2 separate regions of the Homo sapiens genome follow, and region 2 is linked to region 1. Evidence: fine-mapped expression QTL. Tissue or cell type: thyroid. Region 1 holds a variant in brackets; the other region holds the start of a gene. All regions are shown on one strand. Distances are from middle to middle.

Region 1 (8,101 bases):
AATTTTCCCAGCGAAGCTTCCTTCAGCAGATGAGCTAAGGGAACACGGCAGGCCTATTGGAGGAGGGAACCGCCAGAAAATAAACCCTGAGCCTGGCTATTATTACTTTTTGTTGTTGTTAATTTATCCCCTGCTTGGCTTCTGATAGGCTCCAAGATGACTAAATAAACCCAGGAATCAACTCCCCACCCTCCCAAACTCAATCTTCAGCAAGGGAGAGCTCAGTCTGCGGCATAAATTAGCGGAAGCCAGAGTGTAAAAATATGATTCTGTGAACAAACAAAAGCCTCCAGTCATGAGACCAGCAGTGGCTGAGCTGTTCCCACTGCCGTCAGCTCTGTTTCCAAGCAATTAGAAGGCAGAGGGAGAAGAGCCCGGCAGACCCCCCCAGTGGAGCTGGGAGGGAGGGAGGGGGACAGGGGGCAGCCCTCCAGCGCCCTGCTGCAGCCCTCCAGATGCTTGGAGCTGGTGCTGGGGCTTGCCTGGTAGGCAGGAGAACTGTCTGTCTGGCCCCAGGCTGCTGGGGGACCCCCTCGCCAACCCCCAAGCATGATTTTTGCCTCTTGGCCTCAGTCTCTTCATCTTTAAAATGAGCATAATAACTCCTGGTGGCTTTTCCACCAATCTGTCATGAGGATTAGACAAAATAAAAGGTTGTAAAAGGTTTGAGGAAAAGCAGAGGGAGGTGAGGGGTGATTGCTGGAACTTGCGGCAAGTCGAGGGGCTGCCAGGAGAAGGGGTCCCACTGGAGAACTAGCTTCCTGCTTGAAATCTCCACCCACACCCATTCTGCAGATGTCAAAAGTGAGGCTCAAGAAGGTTGGGCTTGGCCTCAGTTGACTCTCCAGAAATGGAGCCTGCCAGACACAGAAGTCAGTGGCTTCCCCACTCCACCTTGGAGTCAGAGTGCCTTTGGCAAACTGGAACCAGATAACTGAGGCTAGTGTGAGCTGTGGGCTGAGCTGGTGGGCGAGTGTGTTGGTGACCTATGCCTGGCTCATCTGGGCTGAGCTTGGTGACAGACATGGGGCAGTCCACAGCCTGGCACCCGCCAGCATGGTTTAGACTAAAACTACCCTCCATCAGTTCTCTGGCCTCTTATAGGAAGAAATTCTGATCCCAAGAGGGCCCATGTGAGCAAGCCCCTTGATAGGCATTGAGGACCCTGGAATGGCAAGAGACAGTCCCTGTACCCAAAGGGTTTGCAGTCTGCTGCTGGGGACAGGCTCTTGGGCCACCTTCAGGATCGGCCTTGGATGGACAGTGCTTCCCCTGCCTGCAATGCCAAACTGGGGATTCCAGACATGAAAGGGCACAGAGCCAACATTTACTGTGCCCTGATGCGGAGCCTGGTGCTCATCCTGCACCATCCATCCGGTCCGCTCCATGGAGCCGCCTCTCTGTGCCAGGTATGTGGCAGGGAGCAATGCACAGGCACCCCTGCCCTCCTGGAGTGAGGGCGGACAGGCACTGAACAAAACGAAGCATAAGATGTGAGATGGTGCTAAGTGATGTGGAGAAAAAGAAAGCAGGAAAGAAGGTATGGTTTGAAACCCGACCATAATCCTCAAAATACCCCTGGTTTAATCCTCAAAATGCCCCTCATCTGCCAGTTGAGGAAAGTGAGACTCAGAAAGGTTAAGTAGGTTGGTTGCCCAAGGTCATACAGTAGGAACAGAGGCACTAAGATTTGAACCTGAATGTTCTGATAGGGGAGCTCTTTATTCAAATACCAGGCAACCATCACTCCAAATGACCCTGGAGCAGACAAAAATCAATCAGAAATCAATCTAGAGGGTCCAGCAAAGAAGCTAACAGATCAAGGAGTTCCATTTACCCTGGGCAATCAGGAAGGCTTCATGAAGGAGGCAGCAGCACTTGAGGCTGGTCGGGGAGAGCTCCCTGCCACCTCCATCAGAGGCTTCACTGGGCCTGGTGAAGGGTGCTGGTGCAGGCTGGGGCTGCCTCCTATTTCCCTGCCGGCCACCTTCTCTCAGCCAACCCCTTGCCTTCCAGAGCCAACTTGGCTTAGAAATCAAGCAGGGACAAGAAGTTCCCTTCCTGTGCCAGGCCTGCAGCCAGTCCGAGGCTTTGGCCTCTCCTGCTTGCCTACAGATGGCAGAGAAACCTCCAGCCCCGAGTTCTGGGCATCAGCCTGTTGGCCCAGCAGAAAGGCTGCTGGGGGAAGTTTGGCTGAAAAAATGTAGAGTGAAAGAATTGATTTTTTTTAATCTACACAGTCGTAAACATAAACTGGAAGATACATCTCTTCCTTTATGGGAGACAATCAAAAACACAATACGAGTTTATGGAGGGAATGTGTCTTTCTTATACAGGATATTTTCCCCAAAACACTTGGCAGCCTGAAACCACTCCATTCCAGAGACAAGTAATCAAGTGGAAAGAGAAGGGAGGGAGCGGGATCCCAGGGCTTTATGAGCCAGAGGCCCTACTCTGTTAATGACAAAAAAAAAAGGGTGGCTTTGCTCCTCATTTCCCCTGCCCTGGAGACCCAGGGCCTTGTGAGATGAGCCCAGAGACCCACATTCAACCTTTGGCAGCCAAGAGCCAAGGCTGGGCCATAATCCCATGCTGGATTTTCAGTGCAGCACCTCTGGGCATGTCGGGGCTAGGCCCTGTGCTGGAGCTGAGCACACGGATGGATAGCACTTGATTCTTGCCCTTGAGGAACCAGCCAGCCAGCAGGAAGGGGAGAGATTTACGGAACTGATGCTGACGGTAGGCAAAATGAATCAGGAGTGTGTAGACGTCTTTTTCTTCCCCTTCCCCTAAATCTTTACTTCTCTCTTGACCTGACTCCGGGACTCCCAGCCAGACACCCACCAGTAACTGCTCGATAAAACTTGCCCACTGGGTCATTGAAGCAGGGCCTTCCATGGTGGCAGCAGGGCCTAAGATGTGGTTGCCCGGAACCAAATGTTCCTAACTCTCTGCCGCAGAAGACACTTCCAGCCCAGCCACACTCTGGGATAGGCAGTTCTGTGCAAGTTCAGCATCCGCTTCAAGCACTTGAGGCCAGGGATTCCACTTTCTTCCTGGAGTCCAGAGGAGCCATCACCTCCCTGGAGAAGCCCCCCAACCAATGGGTGATGGTGGCCAATATATAACCCGCCCCCCTGACTTCCGTCCTTTAGGCCTTCAGTCCTGGGAGATACCAGGGGAGTAGAGCCCTGCCCTCCACAGCGGCTTCTCTGTTAATGCTCCTTTATATCAGCTTTTCCTCCTTCCCTGTCTCACTACCCAGCTACCCTCTTCCTGAAATCTCCCAATACACTTCCTGTACCCAAGTCCTGGCCCCAGGCTTTAGGTTCAAGGGAGCCCAATCTAAGAAAGCACCCCACCACTTCCATACTCCCCAACAGACAAGATCTCTGGCCTGCCTAGCACCTCTGGAATGTGCTCAAGATAGGTATATTCTCATGGCAAAGGAGAGAGCCCAGCCTCAGTTGGAGGAGACGGGGAGAGGACAGTGGGCCTTCTCCTCCTGGAAGCCATCCCTCCCTCCTTTCCAACTTCAGCACAGATGCCAGGCTCTGGAGCCCAGCGAATGAGGCAGGGCCCAGCTCCACAACCACCTATGTGACCTGGGCAAGTCACTTAATCTCTCAGAGCCCCATTTTTCTCATCTGTAAAACGAAGATGATGACACCCATGCTGAATAGCTGTGAGAACTGGATGAGGTCATGTCTGGGAGTGGATGCACAATCCAAACAGAAACGCATGAACCACTATTTGTATGAATTTCATCTCCCTAGACAGACTGCCAATTCCTTGAAGGCGAGGCCCTTCTTTATTTTTTCCTGTCTCCCCCACAGCTCCAGCATGGAGCTAGGTACCTAGCTCTCATTGAAAACTCCCTGGATGGAGCGGGGATTGGCCCTGAGCCCTGGGCTCCACTCAGACTGGCAAAGCTCTGCATGGCCAGATGATGAGGGCCATTCTGAGCGTGCCTTGGACTGCACAGAGCTGGCCTGGCCCTATGCCTGG[T/C]GCCAGTGAGAGGACAAGTTGCCCTCCCAAGTTGGGAACGGACGGTGGGCAGGCCAGAACCTGGAAGAAGTGGTGCTAGCTGACGCAGCCATCCTACCGTCCTGAAAAATCCAGGATGACAGTGTTGGGGGCTTTCATCAGCCCCAAGCTCTTTTTGAGTAAAGGGAAAAAATTGGCTTCCACTCCAAGCCCAACTGCATCCGACATCTGGCAGCTCAAAGTGAAGTGACTCATGCAATCCTTAGATACAAGGAAGTGGGGGGAGGAAAGAGAGAAGAAGAAGAAAATCGCACAGAAGGAGGGAGGGCAGGCAGGCGATGTGGCCCCCAGACAAAAGAATTAGCCAGAGTGGAGAGCAAAGGCTGGTCACATGCCCAGGTGACAGTGAGTTGCCCAGCCTTTGTTTTGTTCACCCAGCTTTGGGTCTACTGATAGGACCTCTGGCACCAGGCACTGCTGACCTAAAGAGACACAGGTTTTGACCAGCCCTGGTAGGATAAGAAGTGACCCTGTGGATAGTGAGCAGCCTGTCACCGGAGGCATGCAAGAGAAGCTGGATAAACTCAGGTAGGAGTGTGGTAAAGACTCTGGCTAAATAAGTCTTGGAGAGATTGAAAGATAGCGATGTCCCGTAAGACCCTGAGGGGAAGGGTGGATAAAGTCATGGAGATTACAGAGCCCACAAGCCTGGTTGTCTGACTGCAGGGACAGAAGCCATTTCTCTGTCCATGCAGGTGACAAGGGCAGGCAGTGTGAGCTGGAGGGGTCTTCTTCAGCTTCCCCTGGGACCCAGGCCTTGGTGACCTTCTCTTCTCCAGTATGATTGCTCTGGGAGTTGCAGAGAGGACTGGAGGGCAGCCTGCAGTGGGGTCACCTCTTCAGGGAGCTCAGAGCATGGCAGGGGAGGAGCAGCAGGCCTGTGGACGGATGAGGGAAGTTTCACAGCACCCCATTTGTCTCGTCAGAGCCAGTCTCAGGTTCAGGGTCACACAAGGGAGTGAGAGGTCAGCAGGTAGATGCGATCACGGGAGAATTCTTGGAGGAACCAGAGCCCTTGGAGCTAGTTCTAAGGGTTGGGCCCAACTATACATAAAAGTCCAGTCAATATCAAGTGAGTGTTAGAGAGACAGAAAGATAGAAAGTGGGGGCAGTCATTCCCGCTGGGAAGAACTGCTGAGCAAAGGTGCGACCATGGGGAAGAGACTGGCCTGGGCTGGGAAGGGAGGTTGAAGCAGGAAGTCAGGGGCTGTGAGGTCAGCCTCTGTCTTTTCTAGGTCTTAGTTTATGCCTCTCTCAGGAATGTCTTTTCAGGGTTCCTCCCGTGTGGTTGGAAACCTCAGACAATGTTTCCTGCCTGCTCTTCCCACCCAGCGGGAGGGCCACACACCCAAGCAGGAGGTGGGGAGGGTGCAGGCAAGTCCCTCCTCCCTGGATCTCCCACTTCCCACCTGCACAAGACAGGTTGAGCTGTGCAGTCTGCCAAGGCCCTTCTAGCCCAACTGTATCCAGATTCTTAGGTCTGTGGCCAAAGTCAGACCAAAGCAGAGGTCACCTCTTGGCCCACTTAGTGCAACATAACTGCCAGCGCCTTTGCCTCAGCCAGATGGGTCCAATTCCACAGTGGCCTGCGGGTCCTCAGCACCCCTCCCCCACCAAGTCAGGCATTACCTCCTCAGCCTGCTCTCCAGGAAGGCCTTCAGAGTCATCCTCACCTCCAGACCTTAGCTCACTCTGCAGCCCTTCCTGCTAATGTCCTTGCTCCTCCTCTCTGAGCAGAGGGCACAGCCTCCAAGGGCCAGAGGAAGATCCACACGGTGTTCTTTCATTCAGCCTTCCTGACAGGCTGGGAGCGGGTGCTGGGCGGGTCCTGCTCAGGATCTGCCTTGAGGAGCCCCCATCCCCGCTCCTTTAGGGCCCTTCGCTGAGTGTTCCGTTTACAGGGGCCTCGTCCCCTCTGAGCACCAACAGGCTGATGTACTTTTGTCCTCACCTGCTGTTAATCGTGCTCTGCTGTTAGGTTCGCTTCGTAGGAGGGCACCGTGTGGACATTAGGAGCATGGGCTCAGCAGTCAGACCCCTGGGTTTGTGTGTGAGGTCCCACTCCCCAGCTGAATGATCATGGGCAAGTGAGAGCCCTCCCTACACCTCAGTGTCCTCATCTGTAAAATGGGGATAGTGATAGTGCCTATTCCGGGGTTACTATAAGCAGTGCATGTGACTATGTATGTAAAGTGCCAAGTGTGGCACCTGCCATATCACAAGGGTTCCATGTCACTTGGGGTCAGTGTTCACATGTTACAGTTGTTAGGACCCAGGCAGGTCCCTCTCCATGTGTCTCCAGGCTCCCCAAGGGCAGGGCTTTGGAGGGGTGTGGAGGTGCAGAATGCATGGTTGAGGGGGTTGTATCATAAATGTACTTTGGGTTATTTCACTGATCCCTTGAGTCCCATTGACTCCCAGGGGGTCTGAAGGAAGGGGTGGCAGGACAGATGAATTCTGAAGTATGGAAAGCAGAGTTTGCAGCTTCCCAGAGGGGCTCCTGGGGAGCTGGGGTGCCTCATAAGCCCTGGGATGGGGGCCCCTGCTAAGGATGACGCGGCTTTGCCCACACTGGGCCTCATTCAGTGCCGGGAAGACTGAGGGAATGACATCGAGGGACAGGCAGGTGCAGGCTCCCTGATCAGGCTCCCCAGGCCCTCAGTCCCTGAGCCCATTAGTCAACAAATGTTTCTAAGCACACTCCAGGCTGCTCCCTTGGACCAGGTTGGAACCCCAGGACCCTGTGTCTACCTTACTGCAGACCTGGACTTGTGATAGAGAAGGTAGGGGGTCCACCAGGGAGGGGGCCAAGCCAGGAGGGGGCATGAACCACACCCCTGGAGAAAAGGTGGCTTCCTGGGACTGGTATTCTGGCTTTGGCCTGTTTCCTTCCTAAGTTCCCCCAGGGCCCAGAATGGGGCCTGCAGTTGGCAGCTGCTCAGTAAACCTCTGTTGAGCGAATGAATGAATGAGTGAATGAATGAATGCATTAATGAATGAGTGAGTGAAAGCCAGATTTGTGTCACTCAGCAGAGCACACCCATGGGATGCTCCCCCAGCTCCCCAGGAAAGCCCATCCTCTCCAGATCCTCCCACTCCCCCAGCCCCTGACCCGGCCCAGACCCTCTCCCTGCCCCATAAGCAGCCACGGTCTCTGCCCCACTCTGACCCTAGCCCCCGCTCCTGCCAGTCCTGCAGCCCCGAGTAGACTTCCAGGCAAGCCAAAGAGGGACGTCAACGTGCGGGCTTTCTGTTGTCACTAGCTGGCAGGTCTCAGGTAATAGCGCCTGTGGAGAACTAGCTACCTTAGCCAAAGAATTTGCAAATGCATGCCAGGAGTGGGTGGGTGAGCAGAGGATGGCAGAACGCCTCGGACTGGCTCCTTCCATGGGCGCCCCACTCCCACAGCAGGGTGGCAGCTGGGCGAGATTTCTCCCACACTCTGAGAGCTCCTCCCTCAGGACAGGCTGCAGAGGCAGATGATGCTGTCCATCTCTGGCCCCTTCCTGTCCTGCAACTCCCAACCACACTACTGGCTACCCCCGAGTGGCACTACCAGGCTACTCCTGAACTAGAGGAAGGGCAAAGGGAGTAACTAAGGCTCAGACCAGGGACATGTCTTGCTCCAGATCAGATAACAACCTGCCTGTGGAGCTGGTAGACAGACAGATCTACCTGTCTGTCTCCCTACCAAGGGGGGAGGTAGAGATTGCTGGGCAGAACGCACAGGCGACTAGCCCAGGAGAGAAGCTGCACCCACAGACCCTGTGGTCGCACAGACCCAATGTTGGCACCTCAGGTCAAGGAACAGCTGTGGGAGGAGGGGAGGGGCAGCTCCCCAGCCATCTAAGAGTGTCTCAATGGCAGCTCCCCGCTTCCCAGAACTAAGGGTGTCAAAGGGGCTAATTGTTTTCCAGCTAGGGTGACCAACTCATCTGTTTGTCTGGAACTTGGCTGGTTTTTGCATGTCCAAACGGGCTCCAGTAGAGGCCCTGATGGGCCACTTGGAGCTTGCCGCATTGTCCTGTCAGGACCCTCAGTGGCCATAATGAGA
Region 2 (8,101 bases), 48 kb after region 1:
CCCTGGAAAGTAGTCATTATTGTCCTGATTTTTCTGAATCAGAGAGACAGTGAAATACATCCCCCCCCCTTTTTTTTTTTACAAGAGACCCAATTCAAGAAAGAATTAAAATGTTTATAGGCTGCTATCCTTGCTCAGAGAGGTTAAGTGACTTGCTCAAGGTCACACAGCTAGCACATTAAATGAATGCCCTGGGAAGCATTTGGTTAAGGGCAAAAAAAAGTGCTTCCATTTCTCTCCGTAGACTAAAGCACTAGGGAAGGCTGCCTAGAGGGTGGAGGTTGGCGGTGAATAAGCAGAGATCTAAAGGATGGGACATCTAGGCAGGTGGCCAGGGAGGTTGGGTGGAAGAAAGGATGGATCAATCCCCAAACACTAAGGAAGGCAGGTCTGAGCACCACCCAGATACTATCTATTCCCTCTCGCCTGTGGCAGCTCTTTGGAGATTTACAATCAGAGACCCCTTCTCCTGAGTCTCCTCTTCTCTAGCCTGCTCTGACCAGCCCTACCATCCTTCATAGAACATATACACCAGTCACCTCCCCTATTCTACTTGGCTGTCCTCCTATGGACACACCCAATGAATTGAGGTGCTAGGCACAGTTTGATCCACACAAATGACAGAAGAAATGTTACCTCCCTTTTTCAAAACACTGTGCTTCTATTAATGAGACCCGAGATCAATTATGTATTAAGCAGTCACAGTCCACCCTGTCCAATCAAGCTCACTGTCTCCTAACCTTGCCAGTTCAAACACATCTCCCTCATCCTGGATGAGGGCGGATGATTCCCTGGACCTAAGACTAGAAACTCTTTTTTTTCAGGCTTAGCCCATTTTTGGTCTCGGCTGTTCCTTAGCATCACTGCTTCCACAAAAGTGATTGGTGAGACTGTGTGATTCCACTTATATGAGGCACCTAGAGTAGTCAGAGTCACAGAGACAGAAGATAGAATGGTGGTTGCCAGGGGCTGGCGGGGGGAGGGGTGATGGAAAGTCACTGTGAGATGGAATAAGATAATGCATGTGGAAGTACTTGGCCCAGTGCCTGGTGCCTGGTAGGTGCTCCACAGAGAGTGGCTGCTATCAGCTCTTAATCACAGAGTTTCAGTTTGGGATGATGAAAAGGTTCTGGAGATGGGTGGTGGTGATGGTTACACAACAATGTGAATGTACTTAGTGCCACTGAACTATGCACTTACGAATGGTTAAGATGGTAGATTTTAGGCCGGGCGCAGTGGCTCACGCCTGTAATCCCAGCACTTTGGGAGGCCGAGACAGGCGGGTCACGAGGTCAGGAGATGGAGACCATCCTGGCTAACACGGTGAAACCCCGTCTCTACTAAAAACACAAAAAAATTAGCCGGGCGTGGTGGTGGGTGCCTGTAGTCCCAGCTACTTGGGAGGCTGAGGCAGGAAAATGGCATGAACCTGGGAGGCGGAGCTTGCAGTAAGCCGAGATCGCGCCACTGCACTCCAGCCTGGGTGACAGAGCGAGACTCTGTCTCAAAAAAAAAAAAAAAAAAAAGGTAGATTTTATGTTACGCATATTTTGCTACAATTTTTTAAGTGATTGGTGGGCCCTCTGGATCCACCCCATCAGAAGAACATCTCCCCAACCCAGGGCAGCTGGATTCCCACCCTCACAGCTTCTGGTTCTCCAAAGGCAACCCCTGAGCTGAATCTCAAGGAAGTAGGAGTCAGTTCCCCCAGCAGCCCCCTGTGAATACATCTCTGAGATAACTCAGAGACCAAGGAACATCATTAGCACCCACAGTACCATCACTGTCTCTGGAATTCAAGTCCCCCATGGGCCAGCCTAAAACCACCACCTAGCCCCACCTCCCTTGACCCCTCCTCTGCCTCTAGTTCAAGATCTCTGCTTCCCCGCCACTTAAACTTTTGAAAATGTCATCTGTACTCACTCCTGTTCCTCACTGTTGGGCACATAGTCCTCGATGCCCAACAGTTTGGTTCCTGTCACCTTCTACCCTCCAAAACCAATTGCCCCTGCCATGTCACCCGTGGCCTCCTGAGTACCAAGACAAATAGACACTTTCTGTTCCTTCTCTCACAGCCACTCCCTGCCGCGTTCGACACTGATGAGCACTTGCTTCTCCCAAACTCCTCCTACTGGGCCTACATAACTCTCCACTTTCTGGTTCTTCTCCTATCTTTCTAATCACTCCTCCCTCTCACTCATGGACTCTTTTCTGAGGTTCCAGCCCAGAACTACTGCTTTTGTTACTTCTACGCAGCGTCCCTGTTCATCTCACCCCTCTAATGATGGTTCAAAAAAAAAAACAAACAAAATGTTACTCTCAAGCCCCAGCCTCTCTCATGAGCATAGATTCATAGACTCCACTGTCTTCTGGCCAACGGTGAAATAGCCTCCTAACTGCTCTATCTCGGTGGCACCTCCTCACACCCACTCACAATGCCCCAGAGGGGTTTCCTGAGAAGGCAAGCAGGCCCAGGTTCCTCCCAATATCAAAGCTCCCTCCGCCCCGGGATAAAATCTAAGCTCCTAACCATGGTCTCTGAGTCTCTCTGTGGTCTGCAGTCAAAATGGTATCTAAAAGGCCCCAGTTAACTTAAACTCCCCTCCTCCCATTTCTGCTTCTGAGCCTGTGCTCCCACCCTCCTCCCTGCCTGGAATGCTGATCCCCAACCCCCCACACTGACAGTCACTCCTACTCCTCCTTTGAGATTCAGCTCAGGGGTGGCCTACCTGGCAGAACCCGCCAGGCCCTGGCCTGAACTGCACCACCCAACCCACACTTCCCTACTCCCCTGTTAACATTGCTTCCAGAATTTGCCTCTGTTGTGACTCAGGAGTGTCCCCGAGCCGTGAGCTTCCTGAAATGCTCTGGTGGCCCCGGAGCCTAGCATGGAACCTGATGCACAGAAGGCCTCTAATACATGAGTCAATTGTTGAATAGCTGAAGGAAACGATGGGTGTCCAAGACAGCCTCCAACCCCCAGCCCTGCCGACCCAGAGCTTGGCACACAGTAGGTTCTCAGGAAAGGTTGGCAGTATTCTATTTTCTGAATGAATGTGATTTCAGGCAAGGTCAGGGGCTGGGTTATGTGGGTGGTAGAAGGGAGGGTCTGGATGCGGGAAACGTGGCCAAAAGGGAAGCTTGGGGGCAGTGCAGTAGGGGAAGGGGGCAATGGGGGTGTCTGGAGAGGTGGGAAAGGAACGAAGTCCCCAGAACGCTGTCCCTCCGCGCCCCAGGTCAGCCGGCGTGGGGTCCGGTCAGTCCGCCTCCAGCCCCGCCAGCGAGACCCTTCCCCCTCGCCCGGGTGGCGAGACCCCCCTGGCTCGCACGCTTGGCCCTCGGGGTTGGGAGGCGTGTGTGTCGCTTTAAAAGCTCCCTCCCGGCGCGGCGGGCCGGCCCCTTCCCTGACAGCGCCGAGGCAAGCGGAGCCAAGCGAGCCGGGCGGCCTTTAAGGGAGCCAGCGCCCGCCCGGGCGGCCAGTCCGGCGGGGGGCGGCGGGGCGGGCCGGGGGCGGCCGGGGCGCGGGCGGCGCGGCGCCGCGGCGCTTGGGGAGCGGGCCCAGGCCCCGGGAGCCCGGCGGGGCAGGGCAGGGCGAGGCGGTGAAGGGAGGCCCAGCCCCGACCCGGCGCCTGTTTGCCCCACCGGCGGCGACCCGGCGCCCGGGGGCTGCTGAGGCGGGGAGCCGAGAGCGAACGGACGGGAGGTAGCGGAGCCGAGCGGAGGCTGCGAGCCTAGTGCGCCCCGGCCCGGCCCGGCCCGCCGCTCGCCCCCTCCCCTCCCTTCCCCTCGCCGCGCCTCCTCCCCTCGCCTCTTCTCGCCTCCTCTCCTCTCCTCCGCCCGGCGCTGCTCCCGCCTGCGCCCGGGCCGCCGAACCCAGCCCGGCCGGGGCCCCCGGCTTCGCGCGCTCTCGGCTGGGCCCGGCGGGGACCGGGTCCCCGCGGCTGACATCGCCCCTCCTCGGGGACCCGGTGGATTCCGGACCTTTCGGAACGTGAACTGAGCCGTGGGAGCGGTCTCGCCCAGGGCCGACCGCGGGGCTGGGCTGAGCAGACCCTCGCGGCCGCTCCGGACGCCGCGGGTGCCGGGGCACGGACGTTCTGGGTCCGGGCTGAGCGCGTCCCGGGCGCCCGGCGGTGCCAGCTCACTCCGGGCGGGGTAGGGCAGGGCAGACCCCAGCGGAACACGGACCCGGCCGATCTGGACTGGACAGAGCGAATCCCGGACGGTGCAGAGCCCGGGGAATGCCGGGCGTGGGCTGAGGGGATCCCGGCGCCCTCCCAGCCCTCCGACTTTGGCTCACGCGCTGGGACCTGCCCGGCGTCTCCTCGGCCTCCCCGCGCCCCGGTCACCTGTGGCCTCGGAGCCCCAAATCTGCCGGACCCTCGCTCATTCCCGACCCCGAGCCTGGAGAGGCTTGAGAAAGATTTTTCCTGCCCCCTTCCCTGGAGCGCGGAGGCCCCGCCCCCTCCCACCGCCCAGATGTCTCCGGTCACGGCTCGGAGGACCTCCCTGAGGCCCGGGGCCGAAGGGTCCAGAGAGAGAAGCCCGCCCTAGGGAGCCTTGGGGGCCCCCCAACTCCGTCTTGGGGCTTGGCCCCCGACGCTGCTTGGAGGGAAGGCCGGTGCCCCCACCCTCGGTGAGTCCAGGAGTGGGGGTTCTGAGGGAAGGCGGGGCTGGGGGAGGGAGGGTCCGCTGGGAACGAGGGCACCCTGGGGGCGCTAGGAGGGAGGATGGGTGACTGGAGAGGCCCTCTGGTGAACCAGCCTGGGCAGGCCTGGCTGGGGGGAAGGTGGGGGGGGAGGGCGGGAGCTACGGCCAGGGTGCCCCGTAGCAGGCTGAGGACTTCTGCTTCTAAAGCAGGGGCTCCCTCCCTTTCCCTCTAGAGGAGGGGCTGTGCTGTAAACCGTCTGCCTCCACCACCCCTCCCCACAAAGAAAAAAAAATCCCCAGCGAGGAAGGGTGCAGGCTGGCGAGAGGAGGGAGGCAGCGGCATTGCCGGCTGGTGCTGCAGCCTGGGAGGGCTGACGCCAGGCTCGCTCTCTCCGCAGGGGGCTGCCCTCTTCCAATCCAGCTCCCTCCCCAGAGCTGCCCATATCCGGAGCCCCTTCCACATCTGGAAGACCCTGGCCACCATCCCTCTGCAGGTGTCAGTTGCATCCAGAGACCTCTGCCTTTGCAACTGCCTAGGAGTTGTGAGGGGATCCCTGCTGCCTTCCCCCATCCCAAGGGCATCTCTTACCCTTAGTCCCTGCAGAGTCATCCCCCTGCCTCTGTGTTCAAGCTCAGGCAGAGATCAGCTCTGCACACCCACAGGCACTTCAAGACCTGGAGGCCACTCCTGGGACCCAAGGTCCCTCCCCCTCCTCTCCTGTGTCCTCACCTTGACCCCCTCTGCTAGACTCTGTCTCCCTCTGGGTGTCCCACTCTCCACCCAGAGGCAGAGGAGGCTGGGTGGCAGGGGGCAGGGGCTGGTTGAGGGCCGCCCAGGGCCAGGGTGGGCTGGGGGGCCGTTAAAATGTGGAGCTCTGCCCAGCCGAGGGGGGCTCCGTGGAGGCAGACGCAGTGTGTGCCCAGCTGGGGGGAGTATGGGCAGGCCTGCGGCCACGTGGTAAACGATGAACATTCGGGGCGCCCCGGACCTCGGGCAGCCCAGTGACGACCCCAGCAGTGGTGGTGAGCGGGAGCGGATTCGACAGCGCATGAAGATGGTCATCGGGCAGCTTGAGGGCATCCTTCGCGAGCTCAAGGAGGTGGCCAAGGAGCTGAGGGAGGTAAGTGAGGGGTGAGGAGGGACCAGACAGACCCTAAGCCAACCTTCTTGGGTTTGGCACAAAAACGTACTCATAAATACGTTGGAGTGTGCAAAGCTGCGTGCACATGTGTCACTCTACTGGGGACCTTCTTTCTCCTTGCTCTCCTTTCCGCAAATCTGCTTTGCTAAAAATCTCATCAGACCCCAAGGCTGGAGGGGCCTCGGTGTTGTAGAGGTTACTTGAGCAGCATGTCAGTGGGCCTGGAGCTCTGGGTTAGCACAAAGGGCTGCCAAGATGGCCAGTAAGGACTGAATCCCGCCACAGCTTCTTAGTGGAAGACAACCTTCTGGGACCCAAGCTGACCCTTGAACCCACCATCTGTCTCCCAGACTCTGATCTGGTCACAAGGGACCCTGGGAGAGTGCAGATAGTTGTGCTGAGGTGGTTTCCACTGCTTGAGGCCCAGCTCAAAGCATATCCCTAGAAATCACACAGATACTGAGAACCCTTGATCTTGGAAAAATTTAAGCCAGCTATGTCCTCTTTGTCCGGGGGTAAGAATGGGTCTGGGGGTGCTGTAGTGGATAACAGAGTTCCTTGCATATTTTGGCAGGGGCAGGAGTCTTCCCTAAGGGGATGCGAGTCTCCATCCCACTGTTCTAAATATTTTTGCCAAGGCTGAAAAGCCACTGAGAAATGCTGGGATGTGTGTGTCCCTCTCTGTCTTTCTAAGTGGAGCCTGGTTTAATTACTGCTTCTCACATCGCTAGGGTAATGAGGTACACATGTCTTCAGCCCTGCCCCCTGTGCTGCGTTCGAGTCCAAAATGCATGACCAGCGTTCTGAGCTGCTAGCCTGAATTTGCCCACTGGGTGCCATTATACCAGCCAGGTGGGCTTTAGGCAAATTTCAACTCCTTGTAATCAGGGCCCCTGCAGAGATGGCAGGGAGAGTGATTGAATTGGAGTTATGGGCTCAAGCTCTCCCTGGCCAGCTGTGCAGGGAGGATAGGGGCTCTAGGAAGGCTGAAGAGGTGGGGTGATGGTAGGTACCAACTCCAGGCTGGCAAAGTGGCATTGCAGCCTGGCCTGAGAGCCAAGGAGGAGGGGTTGTTTGAAGGGCACTGTGTTCAGAATGGGATAGGGAGTGGGCATAGAGATGCCAGGACAAGAGCTGTCCAGGGTCAGCCTCGTGGAGCCTACCAGGAAATCCCATCTCAGAAGATGAGAATGACTGTTGCTTCAGGCAGACTGAGGTGGTGGTGCTTCTGCCCATGGACTGGGCCGGCCATAGTCTGGGTTGCACATCTTTGGACAGTACAATTTGGAGATCAAGCGCCAGATGCCCCTGCGGAACGCTTCCTCCTCCAAACTCTTGGGTCCAAGGCACTACAGTTTTCCCCCTGCCTCCATCTTATTTTAGATCAGGGCCATGGGAACTGTCCAAAGTCTCAGTCTTGGCCAGGGACATGAGACCTATGCCCCGGCAGGTACCCACAAAGAGCCAGGATTGACTCTAGGCCTGGGAGTCAACTCTGATACAACTCCCAGCCTTTTCCCAGTTGGGCATCTTCCAGGCATCTGTGTTCCCTCTCCCCACCGCATAGCCACCCAGAGCTTCAAAGGATCTCATAGGTAATCCAGACCAGCTCTGTCCATTTACTATTGAAGAAACTGAGGCCCAGAGAGCAATAGGGGCTTGTCCAAGGTTACACAGCCTACCAGTGGCAGAAGTATGCCTAGAACTCGGGTTCCTGATGCCTTTTCTGGGGTTTCAGCAGGTGAGCTACTGGGCGATCTCTTTGCATTTTGACAGGGGCCTTCCAGAGATGATCTCTTATGCTCATCTGTGATGCAATAGCTCTAGGATTTATTTGCAGATCGTTTAGATGCCCTCTCCTTCCCTTTCACACTCACCCACTCCCATGTCTCCAATAGCAGAGCTCCAGGTTCACAGGCTATGCAGCCCAGAGGCCTCAGCCAGGACAGAGAAAATGAGTCCCCTCCCCCCACACACCCTGTAGGCCATGTGCCTCCACCCAAGACTTTGGCAGGTTGCTACGGCAACCAGAGCCTACCCCGTATGCCACTGCCTGCCCGCTGCCAATGGCACCCAGCTGGGGGAGTGGGTAAGCCTCAGAACTCTCTCGTCCCCCAGGCAGGGTCTAGACACAGGGTGACAGGCAGAGGGGAGTGTGGAGGAAGGCAGGTGAAGCTCTGGGAGGCCCAAGCAAAAGAAGAGATGCCATCACCGTCTTCCTGTGAGATGGGATTTGCCAGGGATGGGGTTACCAAGGGGGGGTGCCAGACCCCGGTTTGGAGAAAAGGGTTGGAATCTCCCTGCTCTCT

Direction of the effects. Alleles are on the strand shown, and positions count from the first base shown. SD is a standard deviation of normalised expression in the study named.
For the expression in thyroid of the gene that starts at base 3,395 in region 2, allele C in region 1 goes with a higher level than allele T (large effect, 0.86 SD a copy in GTEx).

What was found. PIP is the estimated chance that this variant, and not a neighbour inherited with it, causes the effect.
Region 2: it holds the start of INSYN1, and the variant in region 1 is fine-mapped to the expression of INSYN1 in thyroid (GTEx, PIP above 0.99). The same link has a PIP of 0.9 or more in aorta and tibial artery.

The regions. Positions count from the first base shown.
Region 1 is chr15:73,796,879-73,804,979 of GRCh38, reverse strand. No RefSeq gene overlaps it. Among named protein-coding and RNA genes, the nearest start is that of INSYN1-AS1, 33 kb to the right of the region's middle. RefSeq lists enhancers at 4,828-5,506, 5,507-6,186, 6,774-7,732. The variant T/C (reference allele first, on the strand shown) is at 4,009.
Region 2 is chr15:73,748,645-73,756,745 of GRCh38, reverse strand. It overlaps INSYN1 (inhibitory synaptic factor 1), which reads left to right and starts at 3,395. Exons shown (of 3, transcript NM_001039614.3): 1 at 3,395-4,636; 2 at 5,049-5,771. The coding sequence starts at 5,616. RefSeq lists an enhancer at 4,505-5,278.